3 separate regions of the Homo sapiens genome follow, and all the other regions are linked to region 3. Evidence: fine-mapped expression QTL. A gene starts in region 3. Each other region holds a variant in brackets. All regions are shown on one strand. Distances are between the middles of the regions.

Evidence for each region. PIP is the estimated chance that this variant, and not a neighbour inherited with it, causes the effect. A credible set is the group of variants that fine-mapping cannot tell apart.
Region 1: its variant is the best candidate, but not a certain one, in a credible set for the expression of ALKBH1 in thyroid (GTEx, PIP 0.74).
Region 2: its variant is the best candidate, but not a certain one, in a credible set for the expression of ALKBH1 in whole blood (TOPMed, PIP 0.58).

Annotation. Positions count from the first base shown.
Region 1 is chr14:77,655,699-77,663,881 of GRCh38, reverse strand. No RefSeq gene overlaps it. Among named protein-coding and RNA genes, the nearest start is that of SPTLC2, 43 kb to the right of the region's middle. RefSeq lists an enhancer at 563-1,394. The variant G/AGG (reference allele first, on the strand shown) is at 4,196.
Region 2 is chr14:77,679,150-77,687,332 of GRCh38, reverse strand. It overlaps ALKBH1 (alkB homolog 1, histone H2A dioxygenase), which reads left to right. Exons shown (of 6, transcript NM_006020.3): 4 at 7,363-7,453. It also overlaps the pseudogene RPL21P10. Among named protein-coding and RNA genes, the nearest start is that of ALKBH1, 25 kb to the left of the region's middle. RefSeq lists enhancers at 1,154-1,653, 1,654-2,155 and a silencer at 4,870-5,070. The variant A/G (reference allele first, on the strand shown) is at 4,054.
Region 3 is chr14:77,703,492-77,711,674 of GRCh38, reverse strand. It overlaps ALKBH1 (alkB homolog 1, histone H2A dioxygenase), which reads left to right and starts at 3,652. Exons shown (of 6, transcript NM_006020.3): 1 at 3,652-3,853; 2 at 7,198-7,306. The coding sequence starts at 3,671. SLIRP (SRA stem-loop interacting RNA binding protein) reads right to left here and starts at 3,572. Exons shown (of 4, transcript NM_031210.6): 1 at 3,467-3,572; 2 at 779-837. The coding sequence starts at 3,563. RefSeq lists an enhancer at 3,689-4,018.

The DNA.
Region 1 (8,183 bases), 48 kb after region 3:
GCACTTCCTGAGAGCCACTGGATACTGGACCTACAGGCTTTATATCTTCATTTTTAACAGGGGCTCAGCAGAAGGGCACCAAGCTCAACAACAGGAAAAGCGTGAACAAACCGTGTTTCTGGCTATGGAAGATTTTTCTCTGTCTTTGAAGACAGTGATGCTATGTCTGTGTTATTAACCAACTCTTTTTGCCTTTGGAAGGTCACGTAGTGTAAGAATTGCCTAAGGGAGTGAAATAAACATCAGTATTGCTGCTGTCAGTTAGGTGTCAAGCCCTTGTTATTCATCCAGCAACTACTGAGCATCTGTGAAGTGAGTCACTGTGTTAGGTGAATGTAACAGGCATTGTTTCTGCCCTCGGGTCCTTCCATGAGTGGGAAAAACACCTACGTAAGTAGGGTTGCCATAAAAGTATGCTCCCATGGGCCAAGTACAAGGTGTAGTGGGAGGGGCATTTAACCTAGAAATGGCAATGACAGGCTTCCTGTAGGAAGTGACATAAAAGCGGACGAAGAAGGAGCTAGACTTAGCTTCACTACCCTCCTATTTGGCTTAAGGCCGTTTATTATCTCCTCTATTGTTTCATTGGTCTTGTGGGAATAAGAGCATCTGGAAAATCTTGAAGACCTTTTTAGCCTTAATAGTTTATGATTCTGTATGACTCACATGATAAAAATCATTTATTTTGTTCATAGCCCTTAGCACTATCTGCTATTATATCTTTTTTTACTCTTTATTATTTGTGTCCTCCAAAGAAAAGCAGGCTTTTTTCTTTTTTTTTTCTGTCTTGTTCTGGGCTATTTCCCTGACACCTAGAATTGTTCTTGGTACATAGTAGCTGCTCAATTAAATATTGTTGAATGAAGAACATTTTATCATACTGTTAATGTGTTGTTGTATATCACAGAAGTCCTTTGCAAATAGTTGGCTGGAGAAGGGGGACAGCATCTTTTTAAGCATTTACACATATGCAAGCAGTCTTTTTTCTAGGAATTCACTGTTTATCCTGAGTGGGGATGTGGCTCCAAAAGGCACTGCTAGCATCACAAGCCAAACCTAACCCAAATACTCTAATGCCTTAATCAGGGATCATTCCACTACAAGACACAAACCCACTAAATTACAAAAAACAACCAAGGGTAGGAAGTGCAGCCAAGCCTCACTGGGAACTAGAATTGGTAAAAACATCAGGACTCACAGCAGCTGCCATATTCCACTCTCCCCCACTCTCCCTCCCTCTTGGTTTTTTTCTGCCTGTCTGCTTCCTTCTTATTGCAACCCTCTTTGTTAATTTTACTTGCACAGTGATGCCCCTAAATGGCACCTTCAGTCCCCAGTTTTCCAGGTTGCTTGCATATAGATGCCCTAAATCCCGATTGCTCAAAGAAAATCAGCTTGGCATTTTTTGGATTAGTTGTCTACCCCAGATCAGTTACCTGTGGCCCTGATGATACAGAGGACTTAACTCTTCAAAACCAAACAAAGAACAATGGATGGATGGAAAGGAAGTAATTAGTGTGGGGAAAAGAAAGAGAGATCAGATTGTTACTGTGTCTGTGTAGAAAGAAGTAGACGTAGGAGACTCCATTTTGTTCTGTACTAAGACAAATTCTTCTGCCTTGAGACTCTGTTAATCTATGACCTTACCCCCAACCCCGTGCTCTCTGAAACATGTGCTGTGTCAACTCAGGGTTAAATGGATTAAGGGCTGTGCAAGATGTGCTTTGTTAAACAGATGCTTGAAGGCAGCATGCTCCTTAAGAGTCATCACCAATCCCTAATCTCAAGTACCCAGGGACACAAACACTGCGGAAGGCCGCAGGGACCTCTGCCTAGGAAAGCCAGGTATTGTCCAAGGTTTCTCCCCATGTGATAGTCTGAAATATGGCCTCGTGGGAAGGGAAAGACCTGACCGTCCCCCAGCCCGACACCCGTAAAGGGTCTGTGCTGAGGAGGATTAGTATAAGAGGAAGGAATGCCACTTTGCAGTTGAGACAAGAGGAAGGCATCTGTCTCCTGCTCGTCCCTGGGCAATGGAATGTCTCGGTATAAAACCCGATTGTATGTTCCATCTACTGAGATAGAGGAAAAACCGCCTTAGGGCTGGAGGTGGGACATGCGGGCAACAATACTGCTCTGTAAGGCATTGAGATGTTTATGTGTATGCATACCTAAAGCACAGCACTTAATTCTTTACCTTGTCTATGATGCAGAGACCTTGTTCACGTGTTTATCTGCTGACCTTCTCTCCACTATTATCCTATGACCCTGTCACCTCCCCCTCTCCGAGAAACACCCAAGAATGATCAATAAATACTAAGGGAACTCAGAGGCTGGCGGGATCCTCCCTATGCTGAACGCCGGTCCCCTGGGCCCCCTTTTTTCTTTCTCTATACTTCGTCTCTGTGTCTCTTTCTTTTCCAAGTCTTTCGTTCCACCTAACGAGAAACACCCACAGGTGTGGAGGGGCAACCCACCCCTTCATCTAGTGGAAGAAATTACTGGCAACTCTAATGGTGTTATTATACACATTTTACTTCTGGAATGAAGTGCTAGGTGACTGGACCAGGAGATGATAAAAGTAGAGTGTGTCGGTGGCTCTCTCCAGCCCCCTTCACCAGACACTACTCCCAGGCACCCCCCCCCAACAAACAAAATTCACCCGTGCCCCCTGTGCCATCTCCCCTGCTTATCGCCTCTTGGGCTTTGTCGAAAGGTTGGAGACAACGGTGAGGCATCTGGTGCTCCCACGGTCCCATTGCTTTGGAGACCAGAGGCAATTGAGGTGCTTTCAGCCGGAAAAATATAATTTAAGGGCTTGGCATCTGGCTGGGAGCAGAGAGCTATGTTGCCATGGTAATGCCTCGCTTCATTTAACAGCAACATATCCCCAAGTTTGGTCACATCCACACTCAGGCACATACAGCACCCCGTCAGCAGCCCCCGTGACGTGCCCACACTCACCTCTGGCAGAAATCCCTCTGCAAGATGCAAAGCCCATTCCCTGCACCCTCCTCTCATCATAGACACCCACACTCCCCCATATCCTTTCCTACAACACCTCGGCCAATTAGGTAGATTCCAAAAACACCTCCAGACAGCACAGAACACTCCAGGGAATTTTGTTTTGTTTCGTTTTGTTTTTGAGACGGAGTTTCACTCTTGTTGCCCAGGCTGGAGTGCAATGGTGCGATCTCGGCTCACCACAACCTCCGCCTCCTGGGTTCAAGCGATTCTCCTGCCTCAGCCTCCCAAGTAGCTGGGATTACAGGCACCTGCAACCACGCCTGGCTAATTTTTTTGTATTTTTTAGTAGAAACGGAGTTTCACCATGTTGGCCAGGCTAGTCTTGAACTCCTGACCTCAGGCAATCCACCCACCTCAGCCTTCCAAAGTGCTGGGATTACAGGTGTGAGCCACCACGCCTGGCCACTCCAGGGAATTTTGAGTGCTCTGTGAGTGCAGACCCTCTTAAATAGGCCCACACCACGAAGGCTGCTGGGGTCCCTGTGCTTCTTCAGCATCCCTAATATGCAACTGTAGCTCCGTCTTCCTTTACAAATCTTTGTGTGTCATCTCCAATCCTTTAATCATGCCCAAGAGGATGGTAATGAGGGAGAGGAGCAGTGGTGGCCAGCGGTGCACAAATCTCTGTTTTCTTGAGAGCAGAGGTTAGCCTCTAGGGGTCAGGTACAAGGACCAAATCCCTGCAGTAATTATCCAGAAGCCCCCAAGTGCCTACTGATATTCTGTTTCTGCCCCTCCCTTAACCCAGGCAGTGGTAAACAGGATGGATCAGAGAAGAGAAACTTGAAAGCACAAGATCATTTATTGCAACACTGTTTATAGTAGTGAAAAAATAGAAATTGCCTAAATGTCCGTTAACAGGAACTAGCTAAATACACTGTGGCTCATCTGTATAATGATGGACTCTATGGGGTTTAAAAGAATTATGCAATCCATGTGTATCATGTGAAAATATGTCAGTATGTAAAGTGTGATCCCACCGATTTTTTTTTTTTCCTGAGATGGAGTCTTGCTGTGTTGCCCAGGCTGGAGTGCAGAGGTGCAGTCTCGGCTCACTGCAACCTCCACTCCCGGGTTCAAGCAATTCTCCTGCCTCAGCCTCCCAAGTAGCTGGGACTACAGGCACACGCCGCCACGCCCAGCTAATTTTTTGTATTTTACTAGAGAC[G/AGG]GTTTCACCATGTTGCCCAGGCTGGTCGTGAACTCCTGAGCTCAGGCAATCCGCCTGCCTCAGCCTCCTAAGATTTTTTTAACTTTAGTATATACACATGGATATTGATAATGTGAAGAAAAAGGTCTGAGAAGGCTGGACACAGTGGCTCACACCTGTAATCCCAACACTTTGGGAGGCCCAGGTGGGAGGATCGCTTGAGCCCAGGAGTTTGAGACCAGCCTGGGCAACATAGCAAGACCCTGTCTCTACAAAATATTATAATAATAATAACAAATTAGCCAGGCATGGTGGCATACACCTGTAGTCCCAGCTACTTGGGAGGCTGAGGTGGGAGGATTGCTTGAGCCTGGGAGGTCGAGTCTGCAGTGAACTATGATCGTGCCACTGCTCTCCAGCCTGGGCAACAGAGAAAGACCCTATCCCCCCAAAAAATTAATTAAATTTAAAAAAAGAAAAAGGTCTAAGAAGAGTGGGATCAACAGAGAGGTGATGGTGACAGTTTCAGTTGTCCTTTGCTGCATGACAAACTTAGAGTCTTAGAACAATAACTTGTTATTTTTCCTGATTCTGTGGGTTGGCTTGGTAGCTCCTCGACTAGGTTCCCCTGAACTCACTGATGCAGCTGCATTCACCTAGTGCTGGCTGCCAGCTGGGCTTCCCCAGGTGCCCACATGGCCTCTCATCACCCAGGAGGCTAGAGTGGCTTCTGTGGTGTCCCAGGACAGCAGTCCAAGACCACCAAAGCAGAAGCAGCAGGAGTCCTGAAGGCCGAGGCTCTAGAACTCAACAATATCATGTCTGTCATGCTCTGCTGTTCAAGGCAAGTCAGAAGTTAGCCCGGTTTCAAGGGATGAGGAAACAGACTGAAACTCTTGGTGACATGCATGGCACAGCTACGTTGCCAAAGGGCCTATGGATTGGGATAGGGAGAATCTGTAGCCATGAAACAAACAACTGTCATGGGCACCTCTCACTTTTTACTCTATGCAATTCTGTACTTTGCGTTCAGGTTTTCCTTGTGTAAATTTGAAGAAAAAAATAAGTGGAAGAGTGAATCTAAGAGAGAAAAGCAAGAATGATGAGGATTTTGTAGACACATAATTTAGATAGAAATATCAAAGATGACCTAAAGGCTACCAGCCTTGAATACTAACTCATAGCAAGCTTTTTGTTTTTCAAATCAACTGTGAAGAAGAGAGGATTGGAATATCCAAGGGTGGAGATGCAACGACATTGACTAGTGATTCAGTGGGTGAGAAGCATGAATTTTAAAGAGCAGCAGAAGAAAGTATAGCTATTTCACTGGATTCCCATTTTACAGGAAATAAATGTAATCAGCCTTTGAAATAGCTATACATATGCAGAAGATGTATATATTATCACCAAGCTATCAAAATGGATGGCAGGTTTTTCATTTTCTGCTGGCTCACTGCCTCTTCTTGCTGGACATTAAGTAAATTCCAGAACCACATTCCCACCCATAAAACAAAAGGATCCTCCCTTAGAAAGTATTTGTTTTGTTTTGTTTTGTTTTTTTAAGTGAAGATTTCACACTCATACAACATTCTTGCAAAGTTGGTTTGTTCCATCCGCATGGATGATTTAACAAAACAATAGCCTCAAAGGCTTGGACAAGGCCGGGCGCGGTGGCTCACGCCTGTAATCCCACCACTTTGGGAGGCCAAGGCGGGCGGATCACCCGAGGTCGGCAGTTCGAGACCAGCCTGACCAACATGGAGAAACCCTGTCTCTACTAAAAATACAAAATTAGCCAGGCATGGTGGCACATGCCTATAATCCCAGCTACTGGGGAGGCTGAGGCAGGAGAATCGCTTGAACCTGGGAGGCGGAGGTTGTGGTGAGCCGAGATCGCACCATTGCACTCCAGCCTGGGCAACAAGAGTGAAACTCCATCTCAAAAAAAAAAAAAAAAAAAAAAAAGGCTTGGACAAAGACGGCCAGGAAAAAAGAAAATGAAACCTTATTCTCAAAATAGCAAGTTCGTTGGAAGCATCATGATTCTCTCTGTGTCCTGAGTCAGGGCCTTGTCTATATGCAGCACCGTGGAAAGCCTCAAGTTAACAGAGAGTTCCCAGGACACAGTAGGGACAGGCAGAAGAATAAGACGATCAGAAAAACACCAGGGATGCAGAAGTCATCTGGTCACTGACCCCACAAGGAAGAAAGATGTCATGGGCAGAGGACAGGACCACTGATGTAAGGAAAGGATATGACGGGGGAACCGTCTTCCTCATTTCTGATGTTTCCTTCCTGCAAAGGAAGCTTAATGAGTGGAACTTCCGGAACTCTCTCTGCCCCACTGCTCCCTCCTCTCCTGGTGGGTGTGGGGGAGGAGCAGTGACTGTTCCCACTGGTTTTTTGGTGGGGAGGGGAGGAAGGTTGTTTGTTTGTTTGTTTGTTTGAGACAGGTTCTTGCTTTGTTGTCCAGGCTGCAGTGCAGTGGCATGATCATGGCTCACTGCAGCCTCCGCCTCCTGGGCTCAAGCAATCCTCCCACCTCAGCCTCCCGAGTAGCTGGGACCACAGGCATGCACCACCACACCCAGCTCATTTTTCTATTTATTGTAGTGATGGGGTTTCACCATGTTGCCCAGGTTGGTCTCGTACTCCTGGGCTCAAGTGATCTGCCCACATCACCCTCCCAAAGTGCTAGGATTACAGGTGTAAGCCACCATGCCCAGCCTGTTCCCACTGTTAATTTTGAGAATACCTGGGTATCTTTGGCTCAGATCCATACTTTTGTCTCTGTTGGGCATGATTCCACCTGTTGAGAAGTTTTCTCCCCTTCTTCATGCTTCTACTCTGCAAGGGGAGGTCTCTGCTCCACCCAGTGTTCCTTGGGTCTGTGTGGGTATCCACCTAAATTCTGGGGTTTGGGATTGTCAGGCTCAATTGGCTTAAGTCACATCCTGCAATTTGGCCTCTTATCACTAATGAAAGTGCTATTTCACCTTCCATATTTACTTTTTGTTTTATTTCTTGGCTGCAAAACCCAGGAAAAAATAAGAGAGTGTCCTCTTGAAGCCTGTATCAGTTGTTTATTGCTGGAAATATGGCCACATTTACTTAAAACGATGAATCTTTATGTTCTCACACAGTGCCTCTGGGAGCAGCTTGCCTGAGTGGTTGGTGAGGCTCAGGGAGGCTCAGGAGGTTACAGGCAGGACGTTGGTCCAGGCCGCAGTTGTCTGAAGCTTGATGCGGCTGGGGCATCGGCTTCCAACCTGGCTGAGGGCAGAAGGCCTCAGTTCCACACACGTGGGCATCTCCACAGAGCTGCTGCATGTCCTCATGACATGGCAAGGGTCTTCCCTGAGCAATGATCCAAGTAAGAAAGAACAGGAAGTTCCAGTGCCTTTTGTGACCTAGTTTCTGCAGTTGCACACCATCACTTTTGCTTTATGTTTTTAGAAGCCAGTCTCTGAGTCTACCCCAGGAGAAGAATTAGGCTCCCCATCTTCAGGAGAGCAGCAAAGAACTTGCAGATCTTTCTTAAAACCACAGAGACCTCGATAAAGGAAAAGTAACTGGGCTCTCATACAAGAAGCTGGTCCAGAGTTGGAGAAAGAGAAGCCATTCCTGCTGGGCGCGGTGGCTCATGCCTGTAATCCCAGCACTTTGAGAGGCCGAGGCAAGCAGATCACCTGAGGTCAGGAGTTCGAGACCAGCCTAACCAACATGGAGAAACCCCATCTCTACTAAAAATACAAAATTAGCCGGGCATGGTGATGCATGCCTGTAATCCCAGCTACTCGGGAGGCTGAGACAGGAGAATCACTTGATCCTGGGAGGCGGAGGTTGCGGTGAGCTAAGATCGCACCATTGCACTCCAGCCTGGGAAACAACAGCAAAACTCTGTCTCCAAAAAAAAAAAGCCATTCCTTCAAACAGCTCTTACTGAAAACCCGCTAACTGCTCGGCTTTGTGCGGGATGTAGCCTGTGAAGGCAGAAATACTACAAGAT
Region 2 (8,183 bases), 24 kb after region 3:
ATGGAGAAAGGCCTCAGAGGCTGTGTCAGGGAAATAGGATATAGTATAGGTAGAGAATTAGCTTTGGAAGAAAGAAGTAGGACCACTTCTGAAACCAGGAGGATCAGGTGAAAATTTAGAGAAGTTTAGTGGTGTGGGGGAGGAAAGTTGAAATTGTTCACTGGATCATTTGAGCAGGCTTCTGTTTTCTCACTGACATAGAAGGAAATAAGAACAAAACTAAGGACTTGAGATGAATGGTGAAGGTTTAGAACAGAAGACGGTTAGATAAGACTGAATATTTGCAGGATAGCAAGAGGATGTTAGCAGTTACAGTGGCATTGGATGTCCATTTGCAGTGAGTGACTGGGAGTGTCAAGTTGAGAAGGGAGAGAGAAAACTGGAAGCACTCAAACACTGAAAGAATGGGGTGGCCAGGCACAGTGGCTTACGCCTGTAATCCCAGCACTTTGGGAGGCAAAGGCGGGTGGATCACAAGGTCAAGAAATCGAGACCATCCTGGCCAATGTGGTGAAACCCCATCTCTACTAAAAATACAAAAATTAACTGGGCATGGCGGCACACATTTGTAGTCCCAGCTACTTGCGAGGCTGAGGCAGGAGAATCACTTGAACCCAGGAGGCGGAGGTTGCAGTGAGCCGAGATCACGCCACTGCACTCCAGCCTGGCGACAAAACGAGACTCTGTCTCAAAAAAGAAAAAAACAATTGCTAAGAGAAATGCCAACGCTTACATAAGGCGCTTACCCATGACATAAACCAAGCAAACTGCTGTATGAGCACATTCACCAGGGGAGAAGGTGGCCAACCCACCCATCCATCATCCTTCTGCTAGTGCCTGGAGAAGGCAGCAGGGAGCATAGCATGTTTCTTTTTTAGTGAGACCCAATAATTAGGGTCATGTTTGCTTGAACACATTCTTTTGGATAATTGGATAAAGATGTATTAGGTGCCAACGTATTTCCTGCATTCTTCAAGGTGAGAGTTGTATTGGTACTGATCCTTCTTGACCTCCTTTTGGACAAGTCAGGTTTAAAAAGAGAACAACCCACCCCCTTCAGTGATTCTCTCAGTATTTTATGCTTAAAAATGATCCGGAAGCATGTTAAATGGTTTTGGTCTTACTATTCACAGTGTTCAAGAACAAATCTTGGAATTTTTGTTACTCAGGAGGCCCATGATTAACCAGAAGGGTCCTTAAATAGTACTAAGACAAGAAATGTTTGGTGCTGGCCAGTCCTGCTCTCAACATATTGAAGGCAGATATTAAGAGTTGTTGCTACTTTCCTTTCAGAAAATACAAAGGCAAGAATTGAAATCAGGTTTTCAGAAGAGAATATAAAATGAGGGTCTAATGCACTTACATGGGTCTAATACGTTACAAAAATATATATGTCATTGCCCCCAAAATGGCATAGACACTCAAAGATCACAATTTTTCTTTTTGTTATGAGGACTGAACTTAATGCTTTTCAATGTAAGACTCGACTCTGGCTTGTTTTACATCCCTGGACCAGTCATCCTCTATAATATAACGCAAAAACTCAAAGCCTTTTTTTCCCCCCCGAGACAGGGTCTCACTCTATTGCCCAGGCTGGAGTGCAGTGGCACAATCTTGGTCTACTGCAACCTTCTCCTCCCAGGCTCCTGCCTCAGCCTCCCGAGTAGCTGGGACTACAGGCGTGCACCACCATGCCTGGCTAATTTTTTGTATTTTTAGTAGAGACGAGGTTTCACCATGTTGCCCAGGCTGGTTCTCCAACTTCTGAGCTAAGGCAATCTGCCCACCTCGGCCTCCCGAAGTGCTAGGATTACAAGCGTGAGCCACCACGCCCAGCTCAAAGCCTTTCTTTTAATCATACAGTTAGAGTCCTTGTTTTTTTTTGTGTTTTTTTTTAAGACGGAGTCTCACTCTGTCGCCCAGGCTGGAGTGCAGTGGCATGATCTTGGCCCACTGCAACCTTCTGGGTTCAAGCGATTCTTGTACCTCAGCTTCCTGAGTAGCTGGAATTACAGGCACCCACCACCATGCCTGGCTAGTTTTTGGTTTTTTAGTAGAGACAGTGTTCCACCATGTTGGCCAGGCTGGTCTTGAACTCCTAGCCTTAAGAGATCCGCCCATCTCAGCCTCCCAAAGTGCTGGGATTGCAGGCGTGAGCCACCGCTCCCAGTGAGAGATGTTATTTTGGCTTCTTAGGAAAGGAACTAAATTAGAAAAGGTATATTACAGGATGATTCTATTCATGCTGTCACTATAATTTTGATAATTTTTATTGTTAATAACATAAACCTGTGTTTATAAAATGTATTCTCTGTTCTTGAATATTAGACTAAATCTTTTGGTGGAAAAGCAGTTTGTTGCGGCCATATCAAATGTCTAAAATACTGTCACCTTTTGAATTATTTCCAAAGCAGCATTATTGTTATGTTTATTGTTTCAGATCAGTCTGACATTGATATAATAGTATGGATTCTTCATAAAATGAGGCTGGGCATGGTGGCTCATGTCTGTAGTACCGATACTTTGGGAGGCCAACGCAGAAGGATTGATTGAAGCTAGAAGTTCAAGACCCACCTGGGCAACATAGAGAGACCCCGTCTCTACAAAAAAATTAAAAATTAGCCAGGCATGGTAGCACACACCTGTAGTTCTAGCTACTCAAGAGGCTGAGGTGGGGAGGATTACTTGAGCCTGCAGCAAGCTGTGACTGTTAGGAGGCTGAGGCAGGTGGATCACCTGAGGTCCAGAATTCGAAACCAGCCTGGCCAACATGGTGAAACCTCATCTCTACTAAAAATACAAAATTAGCCGGGCGTGGTGGTGCATGCCTGTAATCCAAGCTCCTTGGGAGGCTGAGGCAGGAGAATCACATGAACCTGGGAGGCGGAGGTTGCAGTGAGCCAAGATCGCACCATTGCACTCCAGCTTGGGCAACAAAAGCAAAACTCCGTCTAAAAAAAAAAAGAAAAAGAATAAAGCAATCTGTTATTGAGCTAGAAAGAAACAGACGGTATTGTGTTTTGTTTTTTAGTTTGGGCTAGAATAGTGGTTTTCAAAGTGTAATTCCTGGACCAGCAGCATAAGTATCATTTGGGAACTTACTAGAAATGCAGTTCTTAGGCCCCCACCCTAGACCTGCTGAATAAGAATTTATAGGCCTGGACCCAGCCATGTGAGTTTCAACAAGCCTTCTAGATGATTCTGATGTACACTAAAGTTTGAGAAACACTCGGCAAAAATTAAGTGGGTTCTGTAATTAAGACAGGTTCTGTAAAGGCTTTCAGTAGAGCTCTTAAGACTGCGCTTTTCAGCTGGAACTGCCATCTTCCAGTAATTTGCGAAAATGACGAAGACAAAGGGAAAGAGGAGAAGTACCTGATAGATGTTTTCTAGGCCTTTTAGAAAACGGAGTTTTTCCTTTGGCCATGTATATGCGCATCTGTAAGAGGGATGATATTGTCAGCTGGACGCAGTGGCACATGCCTGTAATCCCAGCACTTTGGGAGGCTGAGGCGTTTGGATCACCTGAGGTCAGCAGTTCAAGACCAGCTTGGGCAACATGGGGAAACCCTGTCTCTACTAAAAATACAAAAATTAGCCAGGCGTGGTGGTGCATGCCTGTAATTCTAGCTACTTGGGAGGCTGAGGCAGGAGAATCGCTGGAACTTGGGAGGTGGAGGCTGCGGTGAGCCGAGATTGCACCACTGCACTCCAGCCTAGGTGACAGAGCAAGACTGCATCTCAAAAAAAAAGGAGGATGATGTTGTCGACATTAAGGGAATGGGAATGGGTACTGTTCAAAAAGGAATGGCCCATAAATGTTGCCATGGCAAAACTGGAAGAGTCTACAGTGTTCCCCAGCATGCTGTTAGCATTGTTGTGAACAAGTAAGTTAAGGGCAAGACTCTTGCCAAGAGAATTAATGTGCGCATTGAGCACATTAAGCACTCTAAGAGCCGAGATAGCTTCCTGAAACGTGTAGTAAAATGATCAGAAAAAGAACCCAAAGAGAAAGGTACCTGAGTTCAACTGAAGTGCCAGCCTGCCCCACCC[A/G]GAGAAGCACACTTTGTGAGAACAAATGGGAAGGAGCCTGAGCTGCTGGAACCTATTCTCTATGGATTCATAGCATAATAGGTGTTAAAATACCCCTGGACTGTTTGTAAAAAAAAAAAAAAAAAAAAAAGACTTTACAGCTTGGTGTGATGCCTCACTTAGCACTCTGGGAGGTCAGGGCGGAAGGATTGCTTGAGGTAAGGAGTTCAAGATCATCCTGGACAACATGGTGAGACTACATCTCTATATTTTTCTTTTTTGTTTTAATTAAACAATAAAAATAGGCCAGGTGCAGTGGTTCACGCCTGTAATCCCAGCACTTTGGGAGGCCGAGGCGGGTGGACCACCTGAGGTCAGGAGTTCAAGATGAGTCTAGCCAACATGGTGAAACCCCATCTCTACAAAAAATACAAAAATTAGCCAGGCGTGGTGGTGCATTCTGTAATCACAGCTACTTGGGTGGCTGAGGCAGGAGAATCACTTCAACCTGGGAGGCGGAGGTTGCAGTGAGCCAAGATCGTGCCATTGCCCTCCAGCCTGGGTGACAAAATGAGACACAGTCTCCAAAAAATAAAATTTTTGAGAAGACTCTTTGCCATTTAGATACTCAGGGTGCCATCTATTTTGAGTTCTAGATTCCAGTCTTAGATGACCAACTTCTTTCATCTTTTACTACCACTTCTACCATCTCTCTTTTCCCCCTCCTCAAAAACGCATAGCTTCAATATTCATAAGATCATCATCATCATCCTTTTCTTCAACAGCATTTTCTTGTATCCTAGAGATTACCTTAAAATAAGGAATTGGCTACAAAGTAATACCTTGGAAAGAGAAATAGAATGGATCACCTCTATAAGGTGCTTATGTAACTCTGGAACTACGTTTATATTTCCATTAACCACAAAGTCCACATGAGTCATACTTATTTTTCTGTCTCAGGCTACTAAAATAGAACATGTTCTCTAGAGGAGAACATCAAGGAGTTCTTTTATTTGTACCTTTAGCTGAATAAACATTGGTAGACCTCAAGTTGTGTTAATAACTACATTACATTTTTTTCATATTTCAGTTTTTATGCACAAAAATAATGTGTGGTTGTTATCCATATTGTAATTGTTCAAATCAGCTAGTTGCTGTCAGTGGCCAAGCCTTATATTTTTCCCTAAATTATTAGTTATCTGTCTCCTGTTGTGTCAGGGAGTCCCCAAAACCACACCCAAATTTGATGATTCGCCAGGAAGACTCAGGACTCAGCAGATGGTTGCACTTACAGATTTATCACAGTGAAAGCATACAAAGCAAGATCAGCAAAGGGAAAAGGCACCTGGAGCAAAGTCCAGGAAAAACCAGGTGCATGCCTCCAAAAGTCCTCTCCCAAGGAAGTCACACCGGATATGGCAATGGGTTGTGACAAAATCTGTGAAATGTTTACCAAAGAAACTCAGTGCCTAGGTTTTTACTAGGAGCTTGTCATGTAGGCAGCCTCTGCCTGACACATGCCAAAATCACAGACTCCCAGAAGCAAAGCAGGTGTTGACCATAAACCATATTGTTTGCACAGTTTAGGTGCAGTAAGCCACTCTTAACACTTCCAGAGAATTGTGTGAACCTTGCCAAGGACCATCTTTGTAAGCAGACCATCAGTCAAGTCTGCTATGTCTCTTCTGCACACCTGTCCTAAATAAATCAGTGTGTGTTCATTTCTTTTTATCTGCTGGTCTTGATGTATGTATGTGTCATGATGTCTTTCTTAGAATGTAAACTCTGTGAGGACAGATAGCATCTATTCTGTAAACTCTTCGTCAAACATCAAGATGAGTGCCACTGAACAGTGTGGGTCTCAATAAATCCTTTGCTTTTGCTTGTGCTGTGTGCCCATATTGCCTACTGCATCACTCCCTATTTAAATGCTGCCCATTCTTCAGTGCCGTGCTCAACTCCCAACTCTGCCAAGAAGCCCCAACTGATTCGACAGCTGACTTTGAGCTCTCCTTTTTCTTAATTCTCGTGCCCCTCAAAGTCTGCTGTTTACTTTAGTACTAGACTTTATACTGCGTTCAGTTTCCCTCTAATTTCTCCTTAGACTTTCTATTACATTTGCCATTTCCTGTCACAATCAGATTCCTTAAAGGAATCTGATTTTTTCTTTTTTACACAGCCATAGTTTTGGACAAAAAAATTTTTGATTGATCAATGATGTAAATAACAGAGAAAAATTAAATCATTAGACCTACCATTCTCATATTTTTAGATATTTGGAGGTGAGCCAAACAAACAAGCTTCCTTTTTAGAAAAAGAGTAGTGGGCCAGTTGTGGTGGCTCACGCCTGTAATCCCAGCATTTTGGGAGGCCGAGGCAGGCGGATCACCTGAGGTCAGGAGTTCGAGACCAGCCTCAATATGGAGAAACTCCGTCTCTACTAAAAATACAAAATTAGCTGGGCGTAGTGGTGCATGCCTGTAATCCCAGCTACTTGGGAGGCTGAGGCAGGAGAATTGCTTGAACCTGGGAGGCGGAGGCTGTGGTGAGCCAAGATCGCGCCATTGCACTCCAGCCTGGGCAACAAGAGCGAAACTCTGTCTCAAAAAAAAAAAAAAAAAAAGAGTAGTTAATCACATAGATTTGATCAGATGAGATGTAATTGCAGAAAGAGCACGTCTCGGTTGTACAGAAACCTCCTGTGGTTTGAACAAGGGTATGTCAGAAACCAAATCAGTTACAGTGGTGCCTTAATTGTTAGCTAAGCCTCAGTTATCTAAGCTATGTTATACAGAGTTAAAGAAGTCATGTTAAACCAGTTATTTTTTATTGTACTATACACTATATTTTGCTAAACTTTTTTTTTCCCCAACCTGCAATTCTGGGAAGCCACCCTCATTATAGACATAGAAATCATTGTGATTAACTGTACCCTGCTTTTAGCAAACCAAACTGAAAATGTTCTGTAAGTCAAATTTTTGATTGCCCATAGTGCTCTTGGTACCATTTCCCATGGACAGGTAAAGACATTTCTCTTGTCATTGTTGTCATTCTTATTTTATCATTACCAAGATGCTGGAGGCTTGTGATTTAAAGTTGACCCCATTCAGCAGAGGATTTAGAACAAAGGATTATAAATTAGAAGTGCTAACATGTTTTTCTCTGTTAATGTATCTGTGGTCTACTCATTTATCTCTTCTAATTTCTCCTACTGAGTCTTGGCTAACGGCTTATACCATGTAATACTAAATTTTAACTCCAGAGTCCATACAAACGGCTATTGCTGCCATTTTACATGAATAATTCCTCTTTTGTCACCAATCTTTGCAGGTATAAAGAAGCGACTAAACGGAGACCCCGAAGTTTACTGGAGAAACTGCGTTGGGTGACCGTAGGCTACCATTATAACTGGGACAGTAAGGTATTCAGGTTTTCTTAATTCTTTTGTTTTCTGTTTATAGGCTTCTTTAGCCCACATAGTTGTATTTCTTCCTAACCACGCTTAAGATATCAAGATTATACATTTGTGGGAGGATCCCTTTCTTTTATTTCCTTAAAAAATCTCAACTGGGCCAGGTGCCGTGGCTCACATCTGTAATCCCAGCACTTTGGGAGGCTGAGGTGGGCGGATCACTTAAGGTCAGGAGTTTGCTGCCAGCCTGGGCAACGTGGCACAACCCTGTCTTTACAAAAAATACAAAAGTTTGCCGGGCCTGGTGGCACATGCCTGCAGTCCCAGCTACTCAAGAGGCTGAGGTGAGAGGATTACTTGGACCCAGGAGGTGGAGGTTGCAGTGAGCCAAGATCGCACCACTGCACTCCAGCCTGGGTGACAGAGCAAGACTCTGTCTCAGAAAAGAAAAAAAAAATCTCTCCTCAGGTATCTCAAGAGGAATGAATTTTATTATATCAGAAGTCACCAGTGCTTTCTCACAGTAGGTTCCAGGAATATAGAACTCTTTTCAAGAGCAGTTCTCACCATCTTTATTTCCATTATTAGTGAGAGTTTGTTGAGCATATATTTTTCTTTTTCTTTTTCTTTTTTTTAATTTTTATTGTGCAACAAAAGCCACATTCAAGAGCACTTATTTTTCTATGTAATATCTGCCTGGAGTAAAAGAAGCTCCATGTATTTCAATTGTTCATTCGTC
Region 3 (8,183 bases):
CTGAGGTGGGAGGATCACCTAAGCCTGGGAGGCAGAGGTTGCAGTGAGCCATGACTGCATCACTGCACTCCACCTGGGGTGACAGAACAAGACCCTGTCTCTTAAAGAAAATGAAAATTAAAAAAATTTTCCAGTCTGGACAGTATGGCGAAACCCTGTCTCCACTAAAAAATACCAAAAAAGTTAGCTGGGCATGGTGGCACATGTCTATAGTCCCAGCTACTCAGGAGGCCAAGGCAGGAAGATCACTTAAGCCTGGGAGGCAGAGGCTGCAGTGAGATCAGGCCACTGCACCCCTGCAGGGGGACAGAGCGAGACCCTGTTGCAAGATAAGAATTTTTTAAAACACTTTAAGCTTTTTTTTCAACAATTTTTGTGAGTGTATAGTAGGTGTATATATTTATTTGGGTATATATTTATATATATTTATATATTATTAGGTGTATATATTTATATATTTATATATATAAATATGTATATTTATTATGGAGTACATGAGATGTTTTGATATAGGCATGCAATGTAAATTAAGCACATCATGGAGCATGGGGTATCTATCCCCTCAAGCATTTATCCTTTGACTTATGGGGTATCCATCCCCTCAGGCATTTATCCTTTGAGTTACAAATAATCCAATTACACTCTGAGTTATTTTAAAATGTACAATTATTATTGACCATAGTCACCCTGTTGTACTATCAAATAGGTCTTATTCATTCTATTTTTTTTGTACCCATTAGCCATCCCCACCTCCCACCTACTTTTCCTTAATACTTACAAAAGGTAAAATGCACCTTCTGACATGGCCGAACTGTGCAAAGTGTTCTTTCAGCTGACCTGTGTGGCAGAAGAAAACATTAAAAGTAGTTACTATATTTTGGATTCTCTATCTTAGACTGTAGAAAGACAGGGTCACCAGATTTCTTGTGGACAGGAACTACTTTGCATTTCCTTAAAGGCTTAAGATTTAGGAAGCAGCTATGGTACTGACTATAAAGCCATAATGTACCAGACTTGGTGGTGAGATGGACAGAGAAGTTGTTGAGTTGGCTGCAGTCTCCATCCTCAGCAAATATCGAGTGTTTTCATACCAGTTACTGTGCTATGTGGACTATGATCCCTGTGAGCAGATCACAATGAAGAAAAAGACAAATTACAATCCAGTGTGTTTCCCGGTATACTGAAGATTTCCAAATAAAATCCCAACTTACTGGTCTTTCACAATTTAGTAAAATGTGTTGAGTTGCCCTCACCTACCCTTCCTGCCTTATTTCCCACTGCTAGCCCCTAGTTACTCTCTAGTACAACTAATTGAATTATCTTTATCTGTCCTGCGGGTTACCCTCTTTGCATATGTTGTTCTCTCCCCTCCATATGTTGGTAATCCTATCTCCCCCTGGCTAACTTGTAACACTATAACTATCCTTCAAGACCCAAACCAAGTACATCCACTGAGTATTACTTTATTGGGCTCCTATCACAGTACAAGACAATGTACCAGCCCTGTGAGACTTCAAAGATTTAGAGTATATAATCTTAAAGACTAAAAACTACACGATCTGTTTCTCTTCTGAACTACAGTGCTTGTACTTCACTGATTTACTTTTTATAATATCTATTTAGTTCTCCTAGTTCACCAAAACCTCACTGGTTCAACAATTGCCTATATTTGTTCTAAGTCTCTTCATCCCCACCACTAATTGTAAGCTCCCTCAGCATATAAACCACTATGTTTACAGTGACCAATAAACAGCAGGGCCTCAATATTGGCTAAATGAATAAGTAAAAGTCCACTAATCCTTCCAACAATCCACAGAGACTAAATTTTGAAGGGCTCTAATGGTTAAGTCAAACCAACTGGCAAGATCAAGGTCTCACAGAATATGATACTGGAGAACAAAATAATGTTAAACATATGTTTTATACCAGATAATTAAAGTCCTAGAAGACACTGATTTCAAAACAAACCAGCTCTGGAAGGTAACCCTCTTCCTAAATTGCCTAAAATGGTGAAGGAAAAACAGCTGCAAGCACCAAGAACAATGCCTACCACAGAATAGATACTCAAATAAATATTTGCTGAATCAATGGAACAACAAAGAGAAACTGTTTCGAAGCTGTACATAATGCTGACTCTTTTTAAGGGTTTTAAACTAGCCCTTTATTGTCTGGAAACTTGCATCCGCAAGATGCTAATGAAACTCCTCAGCCTTTCCATAAAGTTTCACAGGGACTACGGGAGACTTTACTGGGCTTGGTCTTCACCAACCACATGTTTAAAACACGGGGCACAAACCAACCTATTTCCCATTCTACTACTCACATCTGAGCCACTAAAAACTTAGAAGAAACTAAATCTTGCTCCATTTTGTTTCCAGGGGTTGACCTGAAACATGAATATCTACAAAAAGAGTGACCACGAATGTTTACATGTTGGTAAGCAAATATAAAAACCTCATCTCAAAACTGCAGCTGACAAAAATTGAAGGTGGTGAAAGATTTCAGAACTAATTATTCCAACCTTTATCTGTAGACTAGGCCTCTCCCGTAAGTTTCAATTTTAGTTACCGTGAAAATAACTATCATTTGCTGAGTACTTACACTGTATCTAACACAAGTCTAAGAAGTTTGCATATAAACTCAATCCTCTCAACAATCCTATGAGTTGGGTATTATTGACTCCATTTTATCGATGAGTAAACTGAGGCCCAGTTGTGAGCCCTTTTCCCATACTAACTTCAGTTATTCAAGTGATAACAACGATTAAATGGCCAAGTTGGAATTCTAACCCCAACGGTCTAGCTTCGGAGTCCACTTCTCAGCCACAATGATATACAACCTTTGTCCAATTGCCTGACGGAAACCTCACAAGTTTCTCAAAGTCAACACATTCAAACTTTACTCATCTTCTCTTGGCCTGCTCCTAACTTCTAAACAAACAATTCACCAATGCTAAAAACCCAGAAATCATTTCTCCCTTTCCTTTATTCCGTACACTTCTCCCACTTAAGCCATCACGAAACGGCATCTAATTTGCTTTTAAAACATTAATGCATCTGACCACCATCCTTCTACCATCGCCCTAATTCAGGTCCTCACGTTTTAAGTAAATTAATGAAATTGCCTTTTAGCTCCTCTGCACGCCTACAATCTTGCCACCTTGAATCCATCCTCCACACTACAGTCAAAATTATCCCTTCTAAATTGTAAATCTTGGTTACCAAGTAATAAATCTTTACACCAAATCACTCCTAAAGGCAAGAGCCGGTGCATTCGTGACCCCAAAAGCTCAAGGGACATCCCTAAACGGTTAACTGCAAACAAAATTTCTTTCTGCTCACTTGCATGCTCAGGAGCAGTCTCCTAATTCAGCCACCACGCTGACTTAAGTACCCTGCAAAAAGCAGAAGCTTTGAGGATCACTTGGACCTAAAAATTCCACTACTCCCACATCTCCATCACTCACTCGACGCCGCAGTCCAAGGAATTCTTCTCACAAAAGCAACCGGCTGATTGATACTTCTACGCAGCGCCGCAGCACCTCTCGCTGCTGAGGCCGCCATCTTCAGACTAAAGCACCTTCTCGAGCCGAGGTCGCGGCCCCGGAAAAAATTTCCGGATCCGGAACACGAGAGAATCTGCTTCCGGATCAGAGGGTATAGGCCGCGAGATGGGGAAGATGGCAGCGGCCGTGGGCTCTGTGGCGACTCTGGCGACTGAGCCCGGGGAGGACGCCTTTCGGAAACTTTTCCGCTTCTACCGTCAGAGCCGGCCCGGGACCGCAGACCTGGAAGGGGTCATCGACTTCTCGGCGGCCCACGCAGCCCGTGGCAAGGGTCCTGGTGCCCAAAAGGTACAGAGAGAGGAGTGGCGCGCGTCTCTCCATCGCTTTGCCCCGCGTCTTGGAGGGACTTACGTGTCTTCTTCGCCTCTTTTCACCTCCAGACCGATTGTTATTGAACGATTCCTGACCTCCTTTGGCTGCAGAGTCGAACTCCCCACTAACCGTCACACTTAGCAATAAAGCGTTGAGATGCCTGTTTCTTTAGGCGGCCATTCCTGGCGGGGGCGCTCAGTCAAAAGAGCCTGGGAATCCGTGTTTATTTCTTACTGTAACTGTCTCCTCACATTTCTGTTTGGGTTTTTGTAAAACCCCATAGAACGTCTTTGTAGACGGTAGGGTAGACTTCTGCAGCTTAAAAAAAACCACTCCCGAGGAATCCCAGAACTGACAGGGATGCGGCGCTGTTTGTTAAGCCACTGTGCGTAAAACTAGTCCCTGTCTTCTCCTCTGGCTCTTTTAGAAGGAGGTCATTGAAGGATTCTGAGAATCCCTCCGTGTTGAAAATAAATGGCAAACAAGTATATATGGAATACAGGCACCGTTCTCTCTCTCAGCTTTTCCCCATGGAGATTAAGAAGGGGAACACAGTCCGGGAGCGGTGGCTCAAGCCTGTAATCCCGCACTTCGGAGGCCGAGGCGGGTGGATCGCTTGAACCCAGGGGTTCGAGACCAGCCTGGGGCATGGCAAGACCCCCGTTTCCGCCAAAAATACAAAAAATTAGCCAGTCTCATAACCTGTTCTCAAGTAAATAGATTTTTTAAAAATTATTTTTTTAAGGGAACATAACAGGCAAGAGGGAAAACGGGGAACCAAAACTGTAGTCCAATTTATATTTTCTTTCTTTACAATCCACTTTAACGTTGAGGATATGCAGTCCCTTAATTTGCTCTTGGTGTTGTCCACAGATGTCTAGATGAGGCATTCTTTCCAAGCTTCCTAACAGCTCTGATAAAATTGGGATGCTACAGTATTAAGTGTTAATGATTGCATACTTGAGCTCAGCTTTTCAGCACCTTCATTTGTTAGGGAAAAAAAGTGGTCTTAGAGTTGTCAAAATACAGAAAGTCCACACCCCAATAATAATATACTTTTTCTCTCCAGAGCGCTTCAGACTCTCATTCAGCTCCTTTTACCTACATTTTACCATAATATGTACATGCTTTTTAGAATGTCAGCCATCAGGGAATGAGCCATTATGTGTCTAGTACAGGACCTAAAACAGTACTAAGTACAGTATGTGTTGAGTACATGAAAGCTTGGGTGTTTAGTTCCTCAGCTCAAAGCAGATTAAAGTAGTAATTAAGAGAAGTTACTATTACAAGCCAGCTGATGAGACTGGTGGGGAAAGTGGTGGTTAACAGTCTGGCAAGGGAGGAAAGAGAAAACCTTTTATAAAAGCTCAGTGGTGTCGTTCAGTTTAGCATATGATAGAATAGGTCCACTAACATCACCTCTGAGAGTGTGTTGAATTATAGTGCAGTATTAAGTATGGCCTATTAAAGAAATCATGACAAAATGCTTAAAAGTGTTTTACCAGTGCCTAGGTACCTGGAAAACTCAGCTGATAGTACTGTCAGAGGGTTTCATATAGCCCTTTTATTATAGAGACTGGTTATACATCAGCAAACTTTTGGTATTTTGTCCAGGAATCTCCACACTTGGAGAAGTTGATAAGATAAAAGATCATTCTCTTTCAAAGAGAATGTTTCATATATATATATATGTGTGTGTGTATATATGTGTGTGTATATATAATATATATACTTTTTTTTACTGAGACAGCGTCTCACTGTGTCACCCAGGCTGAAGTGCAGTGGCGTGATCTTGGCTCACTGCAACCTCCATCTCCTAGGTTCAAATGATTCTTCTGCTTCAGCCTCCCAAGTAGCTGGGACTACAGGCACGCGCCACCATGCCTGGCTAATTTTTGTATTTTTAGTAGAGACGGGGTTTCGCCATGTTGGCCAGTCTGGACCCAAACTCCTGACCTCAGGTGATCTACCTGCCTTGGCTTCCCAAAGTGTTGGAATTACAGGTGTGAGCCACCGCTCGGCCTGTTTCATATATTTTAAGGCAAGGCAGACCCTAGGTTTACTATTCAGGGAAGAATAAAGGTTTTTTCCTTTAATGTTTTGACTTCAATGACTGCATAGTGGGTCTCTTAACCAATGTAATGAGCCATCCATTAGATACTCACATACAAAGAAAACTTCAGCCCCTGAAATACTAAATTCATTTCTAAGTAATTAACAGAAGCAGAAGTTGTAGCGTCAGTTGGACATTTCATCTAGAAGAGGGCAAACAGGATTTTTTAGCTTTTACTTTTAGCAGACAGGATTCCCAGTGTCTCACTGCAACATTTTTTCTGTCTGTTTACAGCACTCTCTTTTCATTCTCTTTTTTTTTTTTTTTTTTTTTCTTAGACGGAGTCTTGCTCTGTTCCTAGGCTGGAGTACAGTGGCACAATCTCAGCTCACTGCAACTTTCACCTCCCAGGTTGAAGCAATTCTGGTGCCCCAGCCTCTCGTAGCTGGGATTTCAGGCGCCCGCCACTACACCCAACTAATTTTTGTATTTTTAGTAGAGACGGGGTTTCACCATGTTGGCCAGGTTGGTCTCGGACTCCTGACCTCGTGATCCGCCTGCCTCAGCCTCCCAAAGTGCTGGGATTACAGGCGTGAGCCACTGCGACCGGCCTTCTCTTTTCATTTTCTCACCCTGTCCAGCTTGGTGTTCCTTATAGCTCTGTTTAAATACCAACTCTATACAAGTGTCTCAAAAGCATTACTGTTAGCCCTAACTGAAGTAAATAGCTTTGTGACTCAAGATATTTCAGTACACCAAGCACCTTTCATGATTCAGCCCCATAAGAAGTTGGAAAGGTATGATGTCATAGGAAAAAGTAGTTTTGAAAGCCAAAATTAGCCTGCTTAAGTTTTCTTATTACCATTTTGCCTTAATTTTGGGTGACTCTACTGTTACTATATAGATGAGAAACTGAGGCTCTAAGACATTAAATGACTCATCTAAAATGCCCAGATCAAGTAAGCAGTACAGCTAAGATTAACCCCAGAGTTAATACTCCTTGCTTTGGCCAGGCACAGTGGCATATACCTCTAATCCCATTGCTTTGGGAGGCCAACACAGGAGGATCACTTGAGTTCAGGAGCTTGAGGCTGCAGTGAACTATGATCATGCCTCTGCACTCGCCTGAGCAATAGAGCAAGGTTCTGTATCTTAAACAAGAATCCTAGCTTTGCCTCATACAAGAAATGTGTTTGGAGGTTTGAGGTTCCCGGGGTTGACCTGCAAAATAGATTTAGTCCTTTAACTTCTGTTTCCTTCCTGCCAGGTGATCAAATCTCAGCTAAATGTGTCTTCTGTCAGTGAGCAGAATGCATATAGAGCAGGTCTTCAGCCCGTCAGCAAGTGGCAAGCCTATGGACTCAAAGGCTATCCTGGTGAGTGTAACTGACCTCAGAGAAGGCAATATCACTCAATCATTTATGTCTTCATGTCTTCAAAGAAGGTACTGTGTGTGAGCAAGTAAATAGACAAAGGATACACATAATAAACAGATAAATGTTTCATTTCCAAACCCATTCTAGACTGTACCTTGTCTAAGACGTCCGTTTTGAAAGGATAGAACAGGAGTCAGCAGTGCCTGCAAATGTGGCTGAAAGTGGCATGACCATTGAAAAAATAAGGACATTGCCTCTGGGCTCCCTGCCACAACTCTGAACATCTGATTTGGCAGAAGTGCTGTGAAGAATAATTTATCATTATCATTGTAATAAATGTCATAATAGTTATGAATAATTCATAATTGTCCCTCTAGTCACATTCTCAAATGGCATAACAACTTAAAACTTGTTGCTATCAAGGCTGAACATATTTAATAAAGAATTACAATTAATGACATCAAAAGTCCTCGCCAGGCGTGGTGGCTCATGCCTGTAATCCCAGAACTTTGAGATGCCAAGGTGGGTGGATCACCTGAGGTCAGGAGGTCAAGACGAGCCTGGCCAACATGGTGAAATCCCGTCTCTACTAAAAATACAAAAATTAGCTGGGCATGGTGGTGCGTGCCTGTAATCCCAGCTACTTGGGAGGCTGAGACAGGAGAATCGCTTGAACCCAGGAGGTGGAGGTTTCAGTGAGCCAAGATCGCGCCATTGCACTCCAGCCTAGGCAATAAGGGGGAAACTCTGTCTCAAAAAAAAAAAAAAAAAAAAAGCTGGACGCAGTAGCTCACGCCTGTAATCCCAACACTTTGGGAGGCCGAGGCGGGCGGATCACGAGGTCAGGAGATTGAGACCATCCTGGCTAACAAGGTGA